Homo sapiens: one gene and its partners. The protein of the gene in region 2 binds, or shares a complex with, the protein of the main gene of each other region. Each region holds a gene or a part of one and is shown on either strand. Other genes may lie near its edges. A codon is read from its position in the direction of its gene.

Region 1 (6,976 bases), on a different chromosome or scaffold from region 2:
GTGGAGCCTCCTGGGCCAGCTGCTTCAGCTTCTCCCTGTCCTGCCTAGGCAGCCTCTCCCACTTACCTCACCACCTGGACCCCAGAGGAATTTGACGTTTTGATCAATATCTAAGTTCAAAATCTTTCCTAGGCTCAAGTCCTGCATTTAAAAAAAAAAGTATTTTTTTAAATTTCTGCATTTTATTTTCATGATTTTAGCATTTATTATGGACTACTTTAAAAATACAAAAAGAGGCCAGGCGCAGTGGCTCACGCCTATAATCCTAGCACTTTGGGAGGCCGAGGCGGGCGAATCACTTGAGGTCAGGAGTTCGAGACCAGCCTGGCCAACATACTGAAACCCCGTCTCTACTAAAAATACAAAAATTAGCCAGGCCTGGAGGCACGCACCTGTAATCCCAGCTACTAGGGAGGCTGAGGCAAGAGAATGGCTTGAACCTGGGAGACGGAGGTTGCAGTGAGCTGAAATTTTGCCACCACACTCCAGCCTGGGTGACAGAGTGAGACCCTGTTTAAAAAAAAAAAAAAAAAAGGTATGAGCAGTTGTATAATATGCTCTATCTGCCTCCTGGGTGGATACAAATAAAATAGGTAGGGTCTGAATAGACAGACATAAACAGAGGCTCTATTTGGAAAGACAGAAGACTGACAGTGGCTGGGCACTGTGGCTTACACATGTAATCTCAGTACTTTGGGAGGCTGAGGCAGGAAGATCACTTGAGCCCAGGAGTTCAAGACCAGCCTGGGCAACATGATGAAATCTCATCTCTACAAAAAATACAAAAATTAGCTGGGCATGGTGGCATGTGCGTAGTCCTAGCTACTCAGGAGGCTGAGGTGGGAGGATCGCTTAAGCCCAGAAGGTGGAGGCTGCAGTGAGCCCTGATGGTGCCACTGCACTCCAGCCTGGGCAATAGAGCAACACCCTGTCTTAAAAAAAAAAAAAAAAAAAAAGGCTGGGTGCGGTGGCTTGCACCTGTAATCCCAGCACTTTGGGAGGCCGAGGCGGGTCGATCACGAGGTGAGGGGATTGAGACCATTCTGCCCAACATGGTGAAACCCTGTCTCTACTAAAAATACAAATATTAGCTGGGCATGGTGGCGCATGCCTGTAATCCCGGATCATGAGGTCAGGAGATCGAGACCATCCTGGCTAAGATGGTGAAACCCCATCTCTACTAAAAATACAAAAACAAAATTAGCCAGACATGGTGGTGGGTGCCTGTAGTCCCAGCTACTCTGGAGGCTGAGGCAGGAGAATGGCATGAACCTGGGAGTCGGAGCTTGCAGTGAGCTGAGATAGCGCCCCTGCACTCCAGCCTGGGTGACAGAGCAAGATTCTGTCTCAAAAAAAAAAAAAAAAAACCAAAAAAAAAGAGGAAGACTGACAGTAATTACTGCCTCTGGCAAGAGAGAGGAAATCCAGGGTAGGAAAAAGACTTACTTTTCATTGAAAAATCTTTGGCACTGTTTGAATACTTATTTTTTAATAATATGAATTTTAAAAACAAGAATTATCAGTGGCTGGGCGCGGTGGCTCACACCTGTAATCTCAGCACTTTGGGAGGCCAAGGCAGGTGGATCACGAGGTCAGGAGACTGAGACCATTCTGCCCAATATGGTGAAATCCTGTCTGTACTAAAAATACAAATATTTGCTGGGCATGATGGCGCATGCCTGTAATCCCAGCTATTCCGGAAGCTGAGGCAGGAGAATCACTTGAACCCGGGAGGCAGAGGTTGCAGATCGCACTACTGTACCCCAGCCTGGCAACAGAGGGAGACTCCATCTCAAAACAAACAAACAAACAAACAAACAAATAAATAAAAAATCATCCAGGCTAGGTGGCTCATGCCTGTAATCCCAGCAGTTTGAGAGGCCAAGGCCGGTGGGTCACCTGAGGTCAGGAGTTCGAAACCAGCCTGACCAACACGGTGAAACCCCGTCTCTACCAAAAATACAAAAACTAGCCAGGCGTGGTGGCATGCACCTGTCATCCCAGCTACTCAGGAGGCTGAGGCCAGAGAATCGCTTGAACCTGGGAGGTGGAGGTTGCAGTGAGCCGAGATCGCGCCATTGCACTCCAGCCTGGGCAATAACAGTGAAACTCCAGCTCAAAAAAAAAAAAAAAAAGAATAAGTTTTTAAAGGTTGGGGTGCTTGGAGGATGAAATAAAGTAGAAGGGATGGCAGGTTTCCTTGGCACACTCCTTGGGCCTTAAGAAAGTGTAAAGAATAAGAAAAATACAACAAAAGGAAAACAACAAATATCAATGTATCCACCACTCAGCTTAATAAAGAAAATATAATAAACACAGGTGAAGCCTTTTTTGTGCTCCCCTTCTTCCCCACCACTTACCTCAGAGATAATCACTATACTGAATTAGGAGTTTGCCATTTCCTCAAATTTTAATTGAGTCCTGCATTTTTGACAAACATCTGGACGTCTCTATATGGGTATTTCACTCAGTATGGTTAAAAGCAAATTCAAGCTGGGCTTAGTGGCTCACACCTGTAATCCCAGCGCTTTGGGAGGCCGAGGTGGGTGGATCACTTGACCCCAAGTGTTTGAGAGCAACCTGGGCAACACGGCAAAAACCCATCTCTACAAAAAATACAAAACTTACCAGGCGTGCTGGCGCATGTCTGTAGTCCCAGCTACTTGGAAGGCTGAGGTGGGCAGATCACCTGAACCCAGGAGGTGGAGGCTGCAGTGAGCTGTGATTGTGTCACTGCACTCAGCCTGGGAGACAGAGTGAGACTCTGTCAAAAAAAAAAAAAAAGGCAAATTCAAGTGATCCATTTATGTAAACAGAAAAATGCACTATATAAATGTATCTATCTAGAATTCAGGGATCGGTGAAACAAAAGACATCGCATCGGCAGGTCTGTTTGCAACTTCTGGGATACACCAGGTGTTAGCGGTGATGACTTCTGGATGCTTGGACTGTGGATTTTTAAAATGGTTTTATCTGCTCATCTGTATTTCTAAATTTTCAACAATGGAACATAGATTATTGTATTATTATTATAATACCCCAAACCTATCTTCCTCTCAGCCCTCTTTCCACGAGCTCTTACCCTAAATGTCTCTTTTTCTGTCAGTGGCATTGTGCGTCTTCCTTAGTGCATCACCTCTGATCTTCCTGTAGAATTTTTTTTTTTTTTGAGATAGAGTCTTGCTTTGTCACCCAGGCTGGAGCGCAGTGGCCTGATCTTGGCTTACTGCAAACTCCGCCTCCTGGGTTCAAGCACGTCTCCCTGCCTCAGCCTCCTGAGTAGCTGGGATCATAGGTGCCTGCCACCATGCCTGACTAATTTTTGTATTTTTAGTAGAGACGGGGTTTCACCATGTTGGCCAGGCTGTTCTGGAACTCCTGACCTCAAGTGATCCACCTGCCTCGGCCTCCCAAAGTGCTGGGATTACAGGAGAGCGCCACGGCGCCCAGCTTACACCAGACTACTTTTTAAAATGTTTTTGTAAAGTCAGGGTTTCGCCATGTTGCCCAGGCTGATTTTGAACTCCTGGGCTCAAGCAATCCTTTTGCCTTTTGACTCCCAAAGTCCTGGGATTACAGGTGTGAACCCCTGCAGCTGGCCTCAATGTTAAGATCTTAAGGGGCACAGCACAGACCTTGTCTTGTCTATCTCCCTGGCACCTCTCACAGAGTACAGCTTATTAACAGATGTTCCAGAAACTGTTACTGAACATTCGGCTTGATGCTGTGGGCTTGTCTGCATCTTGCAACTGTCACCTGGCTGAGAAATTTCTTCTATAAATAAGCAGTTTCTGTTTCAGATGTGATATGCCCTGATATTTACACCCTGTCTCTTACCCCATCCAAGACTCAAACTTAGAAACTTGAATTAGATGTGGTATTCAAATCCTTAGCTGCCGCGAAGACACAGACAGCCCCCGTAAGAACCCACGAAGCAGGCGAAGTTCATTGTTCTCAACATTCTAGCTGCTCTTGCTGCATTTGCTCTGGAATTCTTGTAGAGATATTACTTGTCCTTCCAGGCTGTTCTTTCTGTAGCTCCCTTGTTTTCTTTTTGTGATCATGTTGCAGATGGCTGGGCAGTGCTCCCAAAATGAATATTTTGACAGTTTGTTGCATGCTTGCATACCTTGTCAACTTCGATGTTCTTCTAATACTCCTCCTCTAACATGTCAGCGTTATTGTAATGCAAGTAAGTAATATTGCTTGAACGATTATTCATTGGTGTGAACTATTCTGTCTATATGGACTGCTTATTCAGAGAATCAACATAATGGGCATGATGGTGAGTTTTCTTGAATCAAAAAGAGAAAGGAAGCAAGGCAGTGATTTTAATGTTTATGGAAACAAAGTAATTATTTGGAACTGAACTTGATATGATTCAGCACTATTAGCAACATAGATTTTTTTTAAAAATCAGCTCTTCTAATTAAGTGATATTTAGAATTTAAAAGTCAATGTTCATTAATTAAGGTGATTGAATGGAAATAATCCATACTTGATTATTTTGCTATCAAAACAATCCATAATTCATTATTTTAGCAAAATAATCAAGTATGACAGCCGGGTGCGGTGGATGGCTCACACCTGTAATCCCAGCACTTTGGGAGGCCGAGGTGGGTGAATCACCTGAGGTCGGCAGTTTGAGGCCAGCCTGGCCAACCTGGTGAAACCCTGTCTCTACTAAAAATACAAAAAATTAGCTGGGCATGGTGGCACAGGTCTGTAATCCCAGCTACTCGGGAGGCTGAGGCAGGAGAATTGTTTGAACTTGGGAGGTGGAGGTTGCAGTGAGCCGAGATCGCGCCACTGCACTCTAGCCTGGGCAACAGAGCAAGACTTTGTCTCAAAATAAATAAATAAATAATAACAATAAAGTATGTGAATATTATGTTATCAGCTCATTATCTGTCTGATGTTCTTTTCATAAAGGTGTGACCAATTCAGTGAAAGGAACGAATGCGATTCTCTGGACCTGTTTGGGACTGAGCTTAATAATTTCTTTGGCAGTTTTCGTGCTAATGTTTTTGCTAAGGAAGATAAACTCTGAACCATTAAAGGACGAGTTTAAAAACACAGGTTGGTTTGATGGTGAATCTTTGAAATCTATTTCCAGGGGATGGCTATTGTGAGTTTCAGTTCCTTTTCTTTTTTTAGCGTTGACTATTTCACTTCGTTACAGCCCTTTCGAATGTGTTAGAACATTGTTACATTAAATGAACTTGGTAGAGGTGAGCCATCTTCATTCTGATTTTGACACCTTGGCAGATTTTCTACAATGTCAGTCTTCTCCAGGATTCTTCCACTGTTAATTACTCTATTGAAAGTACTAAGGCTTTCTTGGGAAACATCAGTCTCTTTGACTAAAGTTAGCACATCGATTAAATGCCACATTATCAGAAACTCCTAGCCAGGTCTGCTACTGTCAGGAAAAGCATATTTGTCAAGATCTATGGTCATGTTTTTATACAAATATAGGTGTTCTTTGCTTGAGTGAACATTTTACTACTGAAAAATGTTAGAAATGAATAACCAGTTGCTCCTGAATTATTTGAGGAATCATCTAAAAAATAATTATTTTTAAGCAATAGAGAACCAGTCCCAGAAAAATGAATGTTCTACTTAAGTGCCTCTTAAGATAAAAATACTTCTGCAGCACCTTTGCTCATGATTGGATTCCCAAGCATGTACAGCCACTGCCCTATTTCTGTATGCATTTATTTATTTATTTATTTATTTATTTATTTATTTATTTAGAGATGGAGTCTCGCTCTGTGGCCCAGGCTGGAGTGCAGTGGCGTGATCTCAACTCACTGCAGCCTCTGCCTCTTGGGTTCAAACAATTCTCCCATCTCAGCCTCCTGAGTAACTGGGACTATAGGTATGTGCCATCACCTCCGACTAATTTTTGTACTTTTTGGTAGAGACAGGGTTTCATCATGTTGGCCAGGATGGTCTCAAGCTCCTGACCACAAGTGATCTGCCCGCCTCAGCTTCCCAAAGTGCTGGGATTACAGGCGTGAGCCACAGGGCCCAGCACATACTCATTCTTTTTTACTGAAAAGATCTGTTTCAAGCTGGGTGTGGTGGCATGGAGCTGTAGTCCCGACTGCTCTGTAGGCTAACGTGGGAGGATTGCTTGAGCCCAGGAGTTTGAATGCAGCCTGGGCAACACAGTAAGACCCCACCTCTAAAAAATGAAAAAATCTCTCTCACATTGCTTTGAGTCCCGATGTGTACTGCTAAGACTCTCATGACCACATTCTCTGTGAAGTTTGGGTTAATGTTTCCGTTTCTACATAATTAGGATCAGGTCTCCTGGGCATGGCTAACATTGACCTGGAAAAGAGCAGGACTGGTGATGAAATTATTCTTCCGAGAGGCCTCGAGTACACGGTGGAAGAATGCACCTGTGAAGACTGCATCAAGAGCAAACCGAAGGTCGACTCTGACCATTGCTTTCCACTCCCAGCTATGGAGGAAGGCGCAACCATTCTTGTCACCACGAAAACGAATGACTATTGCAAGAGCCTGCCAGCTGCTTTGAGTGCTACGGAGATAGAGAAATCAATTTCTGCTAGGTAATTAACCATTTCGACTCGAGCAGTGCCACTTTAAAAATCTTTTGTCAGAATAGATGATGTGTCAGATCTCTTTAGGATGACTGTATTTTTCAGTTGCCGATACAGCTTTTTGTCCTCTAACTGTGGAAACTCTTTATGTTAGATATATTTCTCTAGGTTACTGTTGGGAGCTTAATGGTAGAAACTTCCTTGGTTTCATGATTAAACTCTTTTTTTTCCTGACATCTAAGTTTTTATTAACGTGAGTTTTTAAAAACAAGCATGTATACCAGTGTGGGGGGTGAGGGTGGGAGAGAAAGGTGGGAGGGGGAAAGAATTCTAACCTATTGATAATAAAGCTCCAGTTTTGGCCAGGCGCGGTGGCTCATGCCTGTAATCCCAGCACTTTGAAA
Region 2 (7,106 bases):
ACAAACCAAATCTGTTGGCACCTTAATCTTGAATTTTCCAGCCTCCAGAAGTGTGAGAAATACATTTTTATTGTTTAATCCACTCAGTCTAGTGTAATATGTTATAGCAAACTGAACTGACTAAACAGCATTCAAAAGAACATAACACCTAGAAGTAAATTTACCCAAGGACATAAAACACTTTAACACTGAACACTACAAAAGATTGCTATAAGAAATGATAGGACATATAAATAAAAGAGAAGATATCTTGTGTTCATGGATTGATAGATTTAGTTTAAGATGGCAGTAATACTCAGTATTATGTACAGATTCAGTCTAATCCATATACAAATTTCAGTGACCTTTTGTTCTCCAAAATGAAAAAGCCAGCCTTACAATTCATTTGTTATTGCAAAAGAGTATCAAATAGCCAAAACAATCTTAAAAATAAATAACAAGATTGAAGGATTCACTATCCTAAATTTCAAAATTTACTATAACATAACAGTAATCCAAATAGTATAGTGGTCCAGCATAAGGCGAGGTGTATAAAGAAACAAAATAAATTTGAGAGTACAGAAATAAACCCATACATCTACGTACAACTGATTTTTAACAAGTGTGCCAAGACCGTTCAATGTGGAAGAAATCATCTTCTTCAACAAATGATGTTGGGACAACTAGATATCCTCATGCTAAAAGATGATTTTGGACCTCTGCTTCACACCATATACAAAAATGAATTAAAATAGATTAATTACCTAAATATAAGACATAAAACTACAAGACTCTTAGAAGAAAACATATGGGTGAATCATGATGTTGAATTTGGCAATGAGTTCTTCAATGATAACACTAAAATCACAAGAAACAAAAAAAAGATAAATTTTACTTCATTTATCTGATGTACAACACTCTTGTGCCTCAAATGACATTCTCAAGAAAGTAAAAAGATAATCCACAAAAGAGGAGAAAATACTTGCAAATCAGATATTTGATAAGGGTCTTGTATCCATAATATATAAGGAAGTTTTACAACTCAACAACAAAAAGACAAACAACCCAATTAAAACACATGGACAAGGTACTTGAATAGACATTTTTCCAAAGAAGACACCAAAAAGGACATGAAAAGATGCTCAACATCATCAGTCATAAGGAAAATGCAAATAAATAACAGAGATATGGCTTCACACCCAGTAGGAAGGCAATACTAATAAAAACATTGAAAATAAGATGTGTCAGTGAGGATGTGGAAAAATTAGAACACTAGTACATTGCTGGGGGGAAGGCAAAATGTTGCAGCACTGTAGAGAACAGGTTGACATTTTCTCAGCAATTCTACTCATCGATTCATCGATGTATACTCCAAATAATTGAAAAGAGGCACTCAGGAAGTACTTTATGCAAATGTTCACAGGATCACTACTCACAATAGCCAAAAGGTGGAAACAAACCAAATACCCTTAATGAAATTATGGCTTACTTATAATAGAATGATATACATTCATACAGAGGCATGAAGTATGAATACATGCTAGAATGTGGGTGAACCTCAAAACATCATGCTAAGTGAAAGAAGCCAGGCACTAAAAGTCACGTATTGTGTGACTGCCTTTATATAAACCATCTAAAATAGGTGAATCCACAGAGACATAAAGCAGATTGCTGGTACAGGGGCATGGGGAGACAGAGAAATGGTAACTGATTGCTTAATGGATACAGGATTTTCTCTGGGGCTGAAGAAAATATTTTGGAGCTAGAGAGAGTTGGTGGTTGTAAAATATTGTGAATACTACATTACAATGAATTGTGCATTTAATTTTATGTTATATGAATTTAATTTCAATAAAAAGATATAACTGAAAAGGTAGCTACCCCTAGTATTTAGCATTTAGAAGTCTACGCTAACAGAAAAAGCAAAGCAAATAGCCTACATAGTAAGCAACCTCTTTAAAACTATAAAATAGAAACTCTTTTGTTAACATGAAAAACAATACACAGTATAGCACATTATGATGAATAAAAGCCAAATACATTTCTGAAATAAGTAAATGTAAATTGATTTATATCACCCAATAAATGAAAATTATTTTAAGATGATATCAAAAAACAAAGAGCAACTCTGTTTTGCATACATGAGAAACACAGAAAAATTATTTCAGAGAAGTTAAAAGTAAAATTTTGGGCAAAGTCATGCTAGGGAAATGCAATCCAAAAATAAAAGAAAACATTTCAACTTTAATATTGAAAAGATATATCATGGAATTCAAGGCTTTTATACACAAAAAGAACAACCAGCTGGAAAATATAATGAAAGAAAATGTTTCTATTTATCATAGCATTTGAAAAGGTAAAACACTTTGTAATGATATTAATAAGAAATATGCAAGAACTTCTTGAAGAAAATTTCAATACATACTAAAAGAAAAAAAAGGAGACTAAAAAAATATAAATATATATCATGTTCTTGGATTTGATCTGTACATCTGTTATCATGAGGGTATTTTTCTTAATTTATAAATATGAGATTCAACAAAAATAGCACGTATTTTTCTTTTTCTTTTTAACTAAGTAAGCTGATTCTACAGTTCCTATATTTAATAGAAAAAAAAGAAAAATTCTAGAAGTAAAAAGAAAAAATGAGTGAATTAAATTTACCAGAAAATAATACAAAGCCCTAGTAACCAAAATGCCATTTTATTGGGGTGCATAAATAGACATTAAGTCAATATGGTATAACAGAAAAGTATTTAAAAAGTGAAAAAAACATAGACTAAACATGGAATTTAATAAAAGTTAAAGTTAATGTCTTCAAGCAGTCTGGAAAAGATGGGCGATTAAAAAAAGACTGTGATGCCCTCACAGGGGAAAATTAAGTTGGTTTCATACCTTACATCTTATACCAGGATAAATTGCAAATAGATAAAGTATTTAAAGGTAGAAAATAACTATAAAGGTTTCAGAAGGAACACGAGATCTTTCCTTAATACGTTTAAGTGTAAAAGGTCTTTCTAATCACAACCCAAATCCAGAATCCTTTAAAAAAATTGACAAATTTGACAGAAAAAAAAAGTATGCAAAATTAAGACAAATGACAGTATGGGAGGAAATGCTTGCAATTAGTAATATAAAGAATTAATCTGCTTGAGATATAAGGTGCTCACAGAAATCAGTTTAAAAATGACCAAGTCCAACGAAAAAATGGAAAAAAATATGAACAGATGGCTCACAGAAAAAAATAAAAATAGACATGAAAAATTGGAAGAATGTAAAGACAGAAATACAAATGGTTCTTAAAACATACAAAAGAATGGCTTGAAAGAAAGCAAATTAAGAGATGCTATTTTTCACCTGATGCTCTTTTGCTGCAAGTGATAGCATAACACTTTACAACCCCTATAGGACCACTTAGCAATAACTGTCAAAATTCAAAATCTGTCCCACACATAGGCTGACATATGAGAAGTTACGGATGCACACAATTATTTTTCGAAGCACCTGCATTGCAAAAGATGGACACCAAGAAGTCTATTGGTAGGAGACTGGTTAAATACATTCAATTCATACAATGGAATACTATGCTGCTTTTTTTTTCATATGAGGATCTCTGTACACAGGCATCAAAATGTCTGCAATATACATTGTTAAGTAAAGAATGCAGGTTATAATCTCATTTTCAAATCATATGTATTGAAAATATGGTTTTTAAGTGTTTACTATAAGAAAGGAGGGAAGCAGAGCTACATTTGCATTTGTTTGTGTTAACATAGAGGGAGTCTGAAGTCTATGTAGGAAACTGAAAGTGAGGTGAGTGTGGGCAGGAACAGATGGGAAAAGGAGCAATCCACACTCTTCATGCTTTTTTATTTTTTGCAACGTGTGAATGCATTACCTATTCAAAATCTAGATTAAAATTCAAAAAAACAAATGAACAGAAAAGACATGAGACTACACTCTGATAAACCCCTCTTGTCTTTTTCTCTTTTGTGAAGTTTACCTCTGCCCTCACTGTCTGGACAAAAGTATGGGGCAGAGCAAGCATAGGAACTCAAAATATCAGATGAACGTAGCCCCGCTCCTTTGAATCTCCATGTCTCTGGAATACATAACATGATTTCATCTCAAGACCTGATGTTATGTATAATACAATAAGATAATATATACAATATGCTAATAATATTTATATATATAAATTCTTTCCCCAGAAGATAATAATATATTATTATATATAATTATTATAATACATTATATATTATATAATATATAATTACATATAATATGCTAATAATATTAATAATATATTATTATCTTTTCCCAGAAGTCTTCTTATGGACCTGTGCAAGTAAAATGCTTTAGTGAGTACAGCCTTTTTTAACAAAATGCAACCTACCTGCTAAATGCAATCTGCCTGCTAAATGCCCATGCACACTCACATTTATATACTGGTCAAGGGTTTGCTGACATCACAAGGGCAACCTGTCCATCCTAAAGGTTGGAGCACTGCAAGCAAGCATCCCAGGTAATCACCCCAGTTCAGCACCCCTGGATCTGTGGCAAGCAGTCACCACTCCAGGAAGATCACAGCATACTCTCCAGTTCACACGCACATTGGAGTATAGCAGCTGCATAATTTGGTGCAATTTATAGCATTTTGGGGGGTGGGGGAGAGATGTGTAAAGTAAACCTTTTCAAAAGAATTTTTAAAAACTGTAACTTTGGCCCTTAAGATCTTCTGGCTTTCTTTTACTTCTTAGGAAACAGTGTGCTGCTTATTAAAAGTTGCAAACATGATTTAGGAAAATGTTGAACAATAAATAATAGATTTACAAGTAGTTTAGTACTTGTGTTGCATTTAGGACAATTAAAGTCACGCAGAAAAAAACACAGATGAAAAGAGCATGCCAGGGAATCATTACCAGTGCCAACTCACATTCATCATCTGTGCTAGTGTTGTTTTGCCCATTCCTCATCGCCTAGCCTAACCTCCAGATACTCCTGAACTCGTAGTTCGTTCACAACACAAAACTTTCTCCTGCCCCCGCCTGCTTTGCTGCCCTCCACAGCATTTCGTCTCATCTACATTTTACTTGTTCATTTGTGGGTTGTTGGGCCTTTCGTTTGTTTTCTCCTCATCAAGAGGTAAGCTCTTTCAAAGTAGAAAACCATGCATATGGACTTGCGATGGTTTGGCTTAGAATCTTCAACTTTACAAAGGTGTGAAAGCCACATACATTCAGGAGAAATCATACTTCATTCCAGTATTCAAAACACAACATGAGCTACTCAATACTTTACTATAAAATGGGCTTCATGTTAGATGATTTTGCCCAATTGTAGACTAATGTAAGTGTTCTGAGCACATTTATGGTAGGCTAGACTAAGCTATGATATTTGGTAAGTTAGATGTCCTAACTGCTTTTTTCAAGGCCCGTTATTTTCAGCTTAGGATGGGTTTATCAGGACATAACTCCATTGTAAGCCAAGGAGCATTTGTGCATATTTTAGTCACTGATACACCCAGTAAACATACAGTAATTAAAATATTGTATATTCTTAATTAATAAATGTAAACTAAATGAATCAATGAATGTGTGAGTGAACGAATGGTTCTTTTTTAGTACATTTTTGTTCACTAGTTATCTTATATAAACAAATGCTATTATAGAGCATCAATTCCCATTTGCTTTCAGAGAGAGGTCGATACATGATAAAGCAGCATAGTCACAAAAATTTGTGAAAAACTGGATGAAACAAAGTTAAACAAACATTTTTTAAAGTAGGACTACTTAGATTCAATAACTTGCTAATGTGCCTTGTGACTCAAAGAAAAATATGTAAGATGCTGTGTTTCCAAACTTATACGACACTGAAACTCTTATTTCAAGGACCATTTCTCTGGATTAACATTCTAGGTGACACATATTGGGAAATGACATTAAAAGTTGTTTCTTTGTAAACCTGGTTTCAGGCCATTATTATGGAAAACACTTAACTTGTCTAAAATTAAAACTAAAAAAGGCTTCAAATAACTGAAAAATGTAAAACATTCTACCTCTGTGAGAAAACGGTAAATTATCAAGCAATAATTTGATGTTGGAAATTTATTTTAAAAATACAGATTTTTAATAATCTGTTCAGTTTTATTTTCCTCTTTCTATGATTTTTACAATTGAATATAACAGGAGAATTCATATTTGTGAAGATGGTCTTGAGTCATTCTTAAAGATAAAATGCTGTCTAAATAATAAAAATGGAATTTGATTTATTATTGGTTTTTATTTTATTGTAGTTTAATTATTTAACATTTCTAAGTATTCGTGCCTCTAAGGTCATTCTCCTTATTAGATTATTACTTTGGTCTTAATTATTATTTATTCCCAAGTCATTTTGAATAAATGTAGGTTTATTATTTTTTACCTGATTATAAGAAGTTCTGAGATGGCTGATTGATTTTACATGCAATTCAAATACAGTCTTTAGACTTGAAACTTACAAATATTTGGAGTGGACTGAATTCTAAGTGGAAAAAGTACTGGGGATATTTTATTTGTTTTTATTATACTTTAAGTTTTAGGGTACATGTGCACAACATGCAGGTTAGTTTCATATGTATACATGTGCCATGTTGGTGTGCTGCACCCATTAACTCGTCATTTAACAGTAGGTATATCTCCTAATGCTATCCCTCCCCCCTCCCCCCACCCCACAACAGGCCCCGGTGTGTGATGTTCCCCTTCCTGTATCCATGTGTTCTCATTGTTCAGTTCCCACCTATGAGTGAGAACATGCGATAGCTTGCTGAGAATGATGGTTTCCAGCTTCATCCATGTCCCTACAAAGGACATGAACTCATCATTTTTTATGGCTGCATAGTATTCCATAGCGTATATGTGCCACATTTTCTTAATCCAGTCTATCATTGATGGACATTTGGCTTGGTTCCAAGTCTTTGCTATATTTTATTACCTTTTTGTATAGTTGGTGTTTCACTGTCTGCAATCAGTTGCAAGCAGTCTTGAGTGACTAAAAAGCAAAAATTTATCATTTTAGTTACTTGAGTAGAAATAATAAAGAAACTGAGAACACAAAGCTAGAAACCCACTCTTCCAGAAACACTAAAT
Region 3 (7,260 bases), on a different chromosome or scaffold from region 2:
AATGTGCTGTGTCTTGGAGCAGCTGGAACCCCAGGTGGACCCTGAGAGAGCTACCTGCCAGCATGTTCCTTCAGCTCGAGTTTGGAGTCCAGCCCTGGAGGCTGCGCACCTCCTCCCAAATGCAGGCTTGTGGCTCTGGAAGCTGCCACTGGGGTCAAAATGGCATCTTAGGTTCTGGCAGATTGGGCCAATCTCAGGGTTGACCCTGGGGTACAGATACCTGAGAATCAGCAAAATCCAGCTCAATCTTTTCTCCTTTGTTATTTCTTAAAATAATCTTGTACTAAATCCCAAAGCAAGCGAACCCATGAATTGATTATTCACTGCTGCCATTTGCATCAGTTTAAAAGCAGGACGGCTCTGAGGGCAGGTATTAAAGAAATAGAGGCCAGGCCCGGCGCCTCCTGCCTATAATCCCAGCCCTTCGGGGAGGACTGCCTGAGGCCAGGAGTTTGAGACTGGCCTGGGCAACATACCGAGACCCTGTCTTTAAAAAAAAAAAAAGGCCAGCCACGGTGGCTCACGCCTGTAATCCTAGCACTTTGGGAGGCTGAGGCGGGCGGATCACGAGGTCAGGAGATCGAGACCATCCTGGCTAATACGGTGACACCCCGTCTCTACTAAAAATACAAAAAAAATTAGCCGGGCGTGATGGCGGGCGCCTATAGTCCCAGCTACTCAGGAGGCTCAGGCAGGAGAATGGTGTGAACCCAGGAGGCGGAGCTTGAAGTGAGCCGAAATTGCGTCACTGCACTCCAGCCTAGGCGACAGAGCGAGACTCTGTCTCAAAAAAAAAAAAAAAAAAAAAATTAGCTGGGCAAGGTGGAGCACCTGTAGTCCCACCTACTCAGGAGGCTGAAGCAGAAAGATTGCTTGAGCCCAGGCTGCAATTAGCTGGGGACCCATCGTTGCACTCCAGCCTGCGTGATACAGCAAGACCCTGTCTCAAAAAAAACCAAAACACAAAACAAGGCCGGGCATGGTGGCTCATGCCTGTAATCCCAGCACTTTGGGAGGCCGAGCAGGGCGGATCACGAGGTCAGGAGATCGAGACCATCCTGGCCAACATGGTGAAATCCCGTCTCTACTAAAAATACAAAAATTAGCTGGCTGTGGTGGTGCGTGCCTGTAATCCCAGCTATTCGGGAGGCTGAGGCAGGAGAATCACTTGAACCAAGGAGTCGGAGGTTACAGTGAGGCGAGATCGCGCCACTGTACTCCAGCCTGGCGACAGAGCAAGACTCGTCTCAAAAAAAAAAAAAAAAAAAAAAAAAAAAAATCAAACAAACACAAAAAACCACCCAACTACAAATTAGGCATCCTCCCACTTGGTCTTTTTTCAGATTCATTTTGGCTTAATGGTGCCTTCCCCATTTTAAAAGCGGTCTTTTACTCATAGTGCCCCAGCCTTTTGAAGGCACAGGAACAGGAGCTGGGCTACCACCTTCAAGGGCTGTCAAAGATGGTGAGGTCTGAAGCCAAAGGCAAGCACACCAAACTCCATGGGGGCTGAATGCTGTGGTCTGTAGTGTCTGTGCTTCTGCAGAGTTAGCCTGGTCCCAGAAAGAGGGCATGTGCATGCTGGAGTGAAGAGCTGAATTTGATTTCCAAGCCCCTGGCTGGGGGTCCAGAGGGAGGGCAGGGGCCACCTCCTGCCGGCTCCCTGCTATTGTTGCTCAGGGCCGGCCGTCTTGGTGGTCACCAGTTCAGTGGAGCCCAGCTCTGTGGCTGGCACAGGGACACTGTGGCCAGGTGGGGTGGTTCCTGGGTCTTCCCCAGGAGGAGGCCAGGCAGGAGCTGTGGCATCAGAGATTCCCGGAGACAGAATGATGACCTTGTCCAGGGGCTCTGGGGCTGCAGGCAGAGGGGGTAGAGGCTCCGTACTCAGTCACAGCCTTCCCTCCCTCCCCTAGAAGACTCCTCTGGAGGGGCAGTCCTCCGTCAAATGAAGCCCAATGCAGGGTGGGGAGGGGTGGCACCTGGCTGACCCTGAGTCCAGAGGCCTGGCCAGTGGGGAGCTGGCAGGGCAGGGAGTTGGGGAGCTGGGGCTCAGTCTGGCAAACTCTTCAGGGATTTATGGGGGAACCAAGCTCCGTTAGACTCCCAAAGGGCAGGACAGACTCCTCCCTCAGACGGGGCCCCCTTCCTGCAACCTGTCTCTTCCTCACACTGGGGTCTGTCAGGGCAGAGCTGTTCCTGGCTCCGACCAGGGTCTCAGGGGCAGGACTATGTCTCCCTCCCCAGCCTGAGCTCCTCAGCGCAAACTCTTTTCCACTCTGTCTCCGTTTCCCCTTAAAGCCCTTCTCTCCCCCTCAGGGGCCATGCATCTCCCCCTAGACCGTCCCGACACCCCAGCCCCTGCGCCCCGCTCAGACTGGTTCCCCTACACACGGAACTCACCGTCCTTGTCTCCGTCGGGGGCCTCTGCGGAGGACGCGCCGCGAAGCCGCCGCTGTCGCCGCCTCCAGCTCACCAGACCCACCAGGACCAGCGCCAGGACCAGTGCCAGGCCCAGCAGCGCGGGGGCGCCAAAGAGCAGCCCGGGCAGGGGCAGCGCCGCCTCGCCGGCCCCCGCGCCCACCGACTCCTGCGGCTGCAGCGCCGTCCTGGGCGCAGGGCTGCTGGCCCCGGCTGCTTCGGGAGGGGACAGGGAGGGAGGCCAGGGGGCCGAGGGGAGGGAGGAGCGGGGACGGGGAGGGGCGGAGGGGGGCGAGGCTGGCCGGGGAGGGGAGGGACAGCCGGGGGGCGGTGGACAAGGGGAGGGAGAGAGGCGGCGGTGAGGGCCACGCGGTGATCGCGGGCCCCTCCAGGCCCTGCCCACAGGGTCCTTTCAGCCCTCGGCGCCCCCGGGGGTCGGGGCTCTGCCTGCGCCCTGGCGATCGGGGCCCCGTTCTCCCCGCAGCTGCCGGCGCCGCGCGCCCCGTGGGTCCCCCTTACCCGGTTTCGGCCGCGGCGTGCGCAGGAGCCCGCAGGCCACGCAGTGGCGGACCAGCAGGTCGAAGCACTCGGCCGGGACGCAGGGCGTGGGGGCTGGCGCGTCCCTGCCCCGCAGGCTCCGGGGCCCTCGCCTCATGGTGCCGACGCCGCCGCACAAGCTGCGGGGACTGAGGCTGAGCTGGGCTCCGGGGCCCTCGGGGAGGAAGCGGGGGGCGGGGGGAGCACTCTGCCCTGCCCCGCCCCCGCCTGCTGGGTGGGACCGAGCTCGCCTGGGGCCCCCCTTTCTTTTCTTTTTTTTTTTTTGAGACGGAGTCTCGCTCTGTCGCCCAGGCTGGAGTGCAATGGCGCTATCTCGGCTCACTGCAAGCTCTGCCTCCCGGGTTCAAACAATTCTCTGCCTCAGCCTCCCGAGTAGCTGAGATTGTAGGCGCCCACTGCCACGCCCGGCTAATTTTTGTATTTTTAGTAGAGACGGGGTTTCACCATCTTGGTCAGACTGGTTTTGAACTCCTGACCTCGTGATCCACCTGCCTCGGCCTCCCAAAGTGCTAGGATTACAGGCGTGAGCCACCGCACCCGGCCTGGCCTCTCTTTCTACCTGTGGTTCCCCAATTCAGCCCCTCAACCAGCACCGCCTGGGTGGGCCCTCTGCTGGGTGCTGGGAGGTGTCTGGGGGCAGACCAGAGCCTCCTCTTGGGTAGGGAGGGGGATGGACCCCGCAGCCAGGACACAGACCCTGAGTGGTTCCTCTGCTCCGTCTAGCCAAAGCCTCTCCATGACCCCGAGTGCTCCCCTGCCATCTCCCCCAACCCACCTGTCTCCTCCTCTCTTCCTGCCCTTCCTGGACAGAGCTGGTTGGGGATATCAGACACCTGCTTTTTTTTTTTTTTTTTTTGAAAAAGAGTCTGGCTCTGTGCAGTGGTGCAATCTCGGCTCACTGCAACCTCTGCCTCCCAGATTCAAGCGATTCTCCTGCCTCAGCCTCCCGAGTAACTGGGATTACAGGCATGCACCACCATGCCCGGCTAATTTTTGTATTTTTAGTAGAGGTGGGGTTTCACCATTTGGCCAGGCTGGTCTCGAACTCCTGACCTCAGGTGATCCGCCCTCCTCGGCCTCCCAAAGTGCTGGGATTATAGGTGTGAAGCCACAGTGCCCAGCCTGACATCAGACACTTGTACCAGGCCCAAGTAGCATGTGGGTCTGCCCTGAGGGAATCTCACACTTGTGCTGATGGGGGAAGACAGCCTCGCAGCAAGGGCACCAGCTCACGTCATCCTGGAAGGTGGGCCGGAAGGCTTCATGGAGAGGGCGATGGTGAAGTGTTTGCCAGATGGACTGAGGTCTAGGGAGCAGATGGGGGTGAAGGCCAAAGGGGAGCAAAGGCTTGGAGGCCCAAACAGGAAGTCCAGGGAGTGCTGGGACCGAAAGGCTGGACTGGGGCCTTATCTAGCACATTAGGGAGCTTGGACTGTGGCTGGGGGACACGAGGGAGCCACTGGGGCTTTGTGCAGGGAGGACCCAGGAAGATCTGCCTATGAGTGAGGGAACTGTGACTGCAGTGGAGGGAAGCCCGCCCACACCTGCTCCTTTTCTCCAGGGCTATGTGTCCTCTCCTGCTCACCTCTGTGTCTCACTGCGGGCCCCTCCTGTCTATCTCTGCTCCCCAGTGTTTGGGGTCCCCAACTGTCTGTCACCCGTGTCTCTCTCAGACTGCGTCTCAGAAACACACACAAGCCCCTCCGCCCTCCTGGTCACATGCTACCCCCTCCCCAGGGCCAGGGCTGGAGGGAACTCTGGGAGCTCAGGGCTCAGCAGAGAGCATGGGGTTAAATGCCACACATGCCACCCAGACCCCTAAGCACTCAGGGCTGGGGAAGCACAGTGAGAGGAGAAACTCAGGGGCTGGGGAGGGAGCCTGGGGGCAGAGGGAGACCCTGAGCAGCAGCGAGGGGGAGGCAAACACTCCAGGCGGAGGGCTGCAGGGGCTAAGGCTTGGAGAGATGAAAGGGGAGCCTGAGCTGCTCTGGGGGCAGGCATGGCCACTGCCACAGGGGATGCTGGGAGGGAGGAGGGAGCATCCGGGCTGCGGATGGGCAGGGCACCAGTCCCGGGGCAGTACAGAACCTGGGGGTGTCTGGGTAGGAGGGAGATTCTGAGCTGTACCTGCAAGGGTCCCTCTCTCTGGCACTGTGGCCCACGTCCAGGGCAGGTGGCCCAGGGCAGGGGATGATGCAGCGGCTGGCCATGGAGTGAGGGGAGCAAGGCCGACCCCCAGGTTTCCAGCTTGGGAGACCCTGAAGGTTCACAAAGAACCCCAGTCAGCCAGCCCTGACTGGTGGGCGCTGGCCCACCCTCTCCATCCCCTGTACATGGGCCAGCAGCTCCCAGGCAGGAAGGTGTGGGCGGAGGGGAGCTGCAAAGGAGAAGTGGGGCTGGGGGCAGGTGTGGGTGAGCGTGGGTGTATGGTGATGTGGGGGTGGGGGCAGGTGTGGGTGAGCGTGGGTGTACGGTACAGGGATGGGGGACAGGACCCTGGAGGGGAGCCAGGGCAGGGAAGGCCTCTCTGTGAGGCAGAGAGGTGGGGACAAAGCCAGAAGACTGAGCCATAACCCTGCCACCCACATACACGTCCATCCATGTTGGTGCTGGTATTACCCATTAGTGAGGGCTGCAGAGGCCTGACTGAGTACCAGGCAGCTCATTTAGCCCTTGTGCCAGCCATGTGGGCAGACTGAGGCTTGTGGGAACCCAGGAACGGGGAACCTGTCCCTGGAGAGGGTGGCCCAGTGAGGCCAGAGTCGGGAGAATTTACAGGAGTTAGGAGGAGGGGGTCCGCCTGCCCCAGGTCTGCGTTTCACAGCAGAAGCACTGGCTGCTCTGACCCCCAGCAGAGACTCGAGGAGACTGCTCTCAAGGCCAGAGAGAGTGGGAGGGCTGGAGCCCACTGTCAGAGTTCCAGGGTCCCTTACCTTGGCCAGAGAGGGAGGCCAGCTGCTAAGAGCAGCAGACACAAATGAGACACCCACTCATGTGACACAAATGTTTGCTGGGCGCTCCCTATGTGCTGGGCCAGGTGCCGGGACAAAAGGCCTGCGGGATTCGTGTCTGTGTTGTGTGCAGGTGCCTGGCCTCACATGAACCTTTCCACTTGGGCCTCCTAAATGGGGTGGGGGTGGGGGGCTGCAGCAGGCCCTGTGTCGCTACTTGGATGACAAAACAGTTAAGAAGAATTCACAATCAGACCAATGTGGGGAATGTTAGTTTACTCCTCAATGTATTCTTATTTCCCCGTGGCTTTTTTTTTTTTTTTTTTTTTTTTTTGAGACGGAGTCTCTCTCTGTCGCCCAGGCTGGAGTGCAGTGGCGCAATCTCCGCTCACTGCAAGCTCCGCCTCCCAGGTTCACGCCATTCTCCTGCCTCAGCCTCCCGAGTAGCTGGGACTACAGGCGCCCGCCACCATGCCCGGCAAATTTTTTGTATTTTTAGTAGAGACGGGGTTTCACCGTTAGCCAGGATGGTCTTGATCTCCTCACCTCGAGATCTGCCCGCCTCGCCCTCCCAAAGTGATGGGATTACAGACGTGAGCCACCGCGTCCCTTTTTTTTTTGAGACGGAGTCTGGCTCTGTCACCCAGGCTGGAGTGCAGTGGCGTGATCTCGGCTCACTGCAGCCTCTGCCTCCTGGGTTCAAGCCATTCTCCTGCCTCAGCCTCCCACGTAGCTGGGACTACAGGCACGGGCCACCATGCCTGGCTAAATTTTTTTGTATTTTTAGTAGAAATGGGGTTTCACCATGCTAGCCAGGCTGGTCTTGAACTCCTGACCTCAAGTGATCCACCCACCTTGGCCAACACGCCTGGCCTAATTTCTTTTCTTTTTTTTTGAGATGGAGTTTCACTCTTATCGCCCAGGCTGGAATACAGCAGTGCGATAAGCAACACCCAACTCAGCTCACTGCAACACCCAACTCCCAGGTTCAAGCGATTCTCCTGCCTCAGCCTCCTGAGTACGTGGGATTACAGGCACCTGCCACCAGGCCCGGCTAATTTTTTGTATTTTTAGGAGAGGTGGGGTTTCGCCATGTTGGGGAGGCTAGTCTCAAACTCCTGACCTCAGGTGATCTGCCCACTTTGGCCTCCCAAAGTGCTGGGATTACAGGCATGAGCCACCACTCCTGGCCTAATTTCTTTATTCAAGTCTTTTTTTTTTTTTTTTGAGATGGAGTCTCGCTCTGTTGCCCAGGCTGGAATGCAATGGCACGATCTTGGCTCACTGCAACCTCCACCTCCTGGGTTCAAGCGATTCTCGTGCCTCAGCCACC

The links.
Region 1: the proteins of TNFSF13B (region 2) and TNFRSF17 are in contact, whole or in part, in a crystal structure (PDB 1OQD), measured with the Homo sapiens proteins. Residues at the interface, in NP_006564.1 of Homo sapiens: Ser162, Tyr163, Lys204, Thr205, Tyr206, Ala207, Met208, Gly209, His210, Arg231, Cys232, Ile233, Glu238, Pro264, Arg265, Glu266, Asn267; in NP_001183.2 of Homo sapiens: Tyr13 (codon at 4,099), Asp15 (codon at 4,105), Ser16 (codon at 4,108), Leu17 (codon at 4,111), Leu18 (codon at 4,114), His19 (codon at 4,117), Ile22 (codon at 4,126), Arg27 (codon at 4,141), Ser29 (codon at 4,147), Ser30 (codon at 4,150), Asn31 (codon at 4,153), Thr32 (codon at 4,156), Pro33 (codon at 4,159), Pro34 (codon at 4,162), Leu35 (codon at 4,165).
Region 3: the proteins of TNFSF13B (region 2) and TNFRSF13C are in contact, whole or in part, in a crystal structure (PDB 1OQE), measured with the Homo sapiens proteins. Residues at the interface, in NP_006564.1 of Homo sapiens: Ser162, Tyr163, Asp203, Thr205, Tyr206, Ala207, Met208, Gly209, His210, Leu211, Thr228, Arg231, Cys232, Ile233, Pro264, Arg265, Glu266, Asn267, Ala268; in NP_443177.1 of Homo sapiens: Asp26 (codon at 2,998), Leu27 (codon at 2,995), Leu28 (codon at 2,992), Val29 (codon at 2,989), Arg30 (codon at 2,986), Val33 (codon at 2,977), Leu37 (codon at 2,965), Leu38 (codon at 2,962), Arg39 (codon at 2,959), Pro41 (codon at 2,953), Arg42 (codon at 2,950).

What each region holds. Positions count from the first base shown.
Region 1 is NC_000016.10:11,961,263-11,968,238, forward strand, and holds TNFRSF17 (tumor necrosis factor receptor superfamily member 17), read left to right. Parts: upstream 1-3,947; 5' UTR 3,948-4,062; coding exon 4,063-4,192; intron 4,193-4,932; coding exon 4,933-5,079; intron 5,080-6,307; coding exon 6,308-6,585; 3' UTR 6,586-6,806; downstream 6,807-6,976. UniProt on the Homo sapiens protein: Receptor for TNFSF13B/BLyS/BAFF and TNFSF13/APRIL. Promotes B-cell survival and plays a role in the regulation of humoral immunity. Activates NF-kappa-B and JNK.
Region 2 is NC_000013.11:108,286,705-108,293,810, reverse strand, and holds part of TNFSF13B (tumor necrosis factor ligand superfamily member 13B), read right to left. Parts: intron 7,009-7,106; coding exon 6,952-7,008; intron 1-6,951. UniProt on the Homo sapiens protein: Cytokine that binds to TNFRSF13B/TACI and TNFRSF17/BCMA. TNFSF13/APRIL binds to the same 2 receptors. Together, they form a 2 ligands -2 receptors pathway involved in the stimulation of B- and T-cell function and the regulation of humoral immunity.
Region 3 is NC_000022.11:41,923,701-41,930,960, forward strand, and holds the start of TNFRSF13C (tumor necrosis factor receptor superfamily member 13C), read right to left. Parts: upstream 3,107-7,260; 5' UTR 3,074-3,106; coding exon 2,938-3,073; intron 2,632-2,937; coding exon 2,401-2,631; intron 1,855-2,400; coding exon 1,667-1,854; 3' UTR 1-1,666. Other genes in the region: CENPM (centromere protein M), read right to left, coding at 4,105-4,282, 5,104-5,234. UniProt on the Homo sapiens protein: B-cell receptor specific for TNFSF13B/TALL1/BAFF/BLyS. Promotes the survival of mature B-cells and the B-cell response.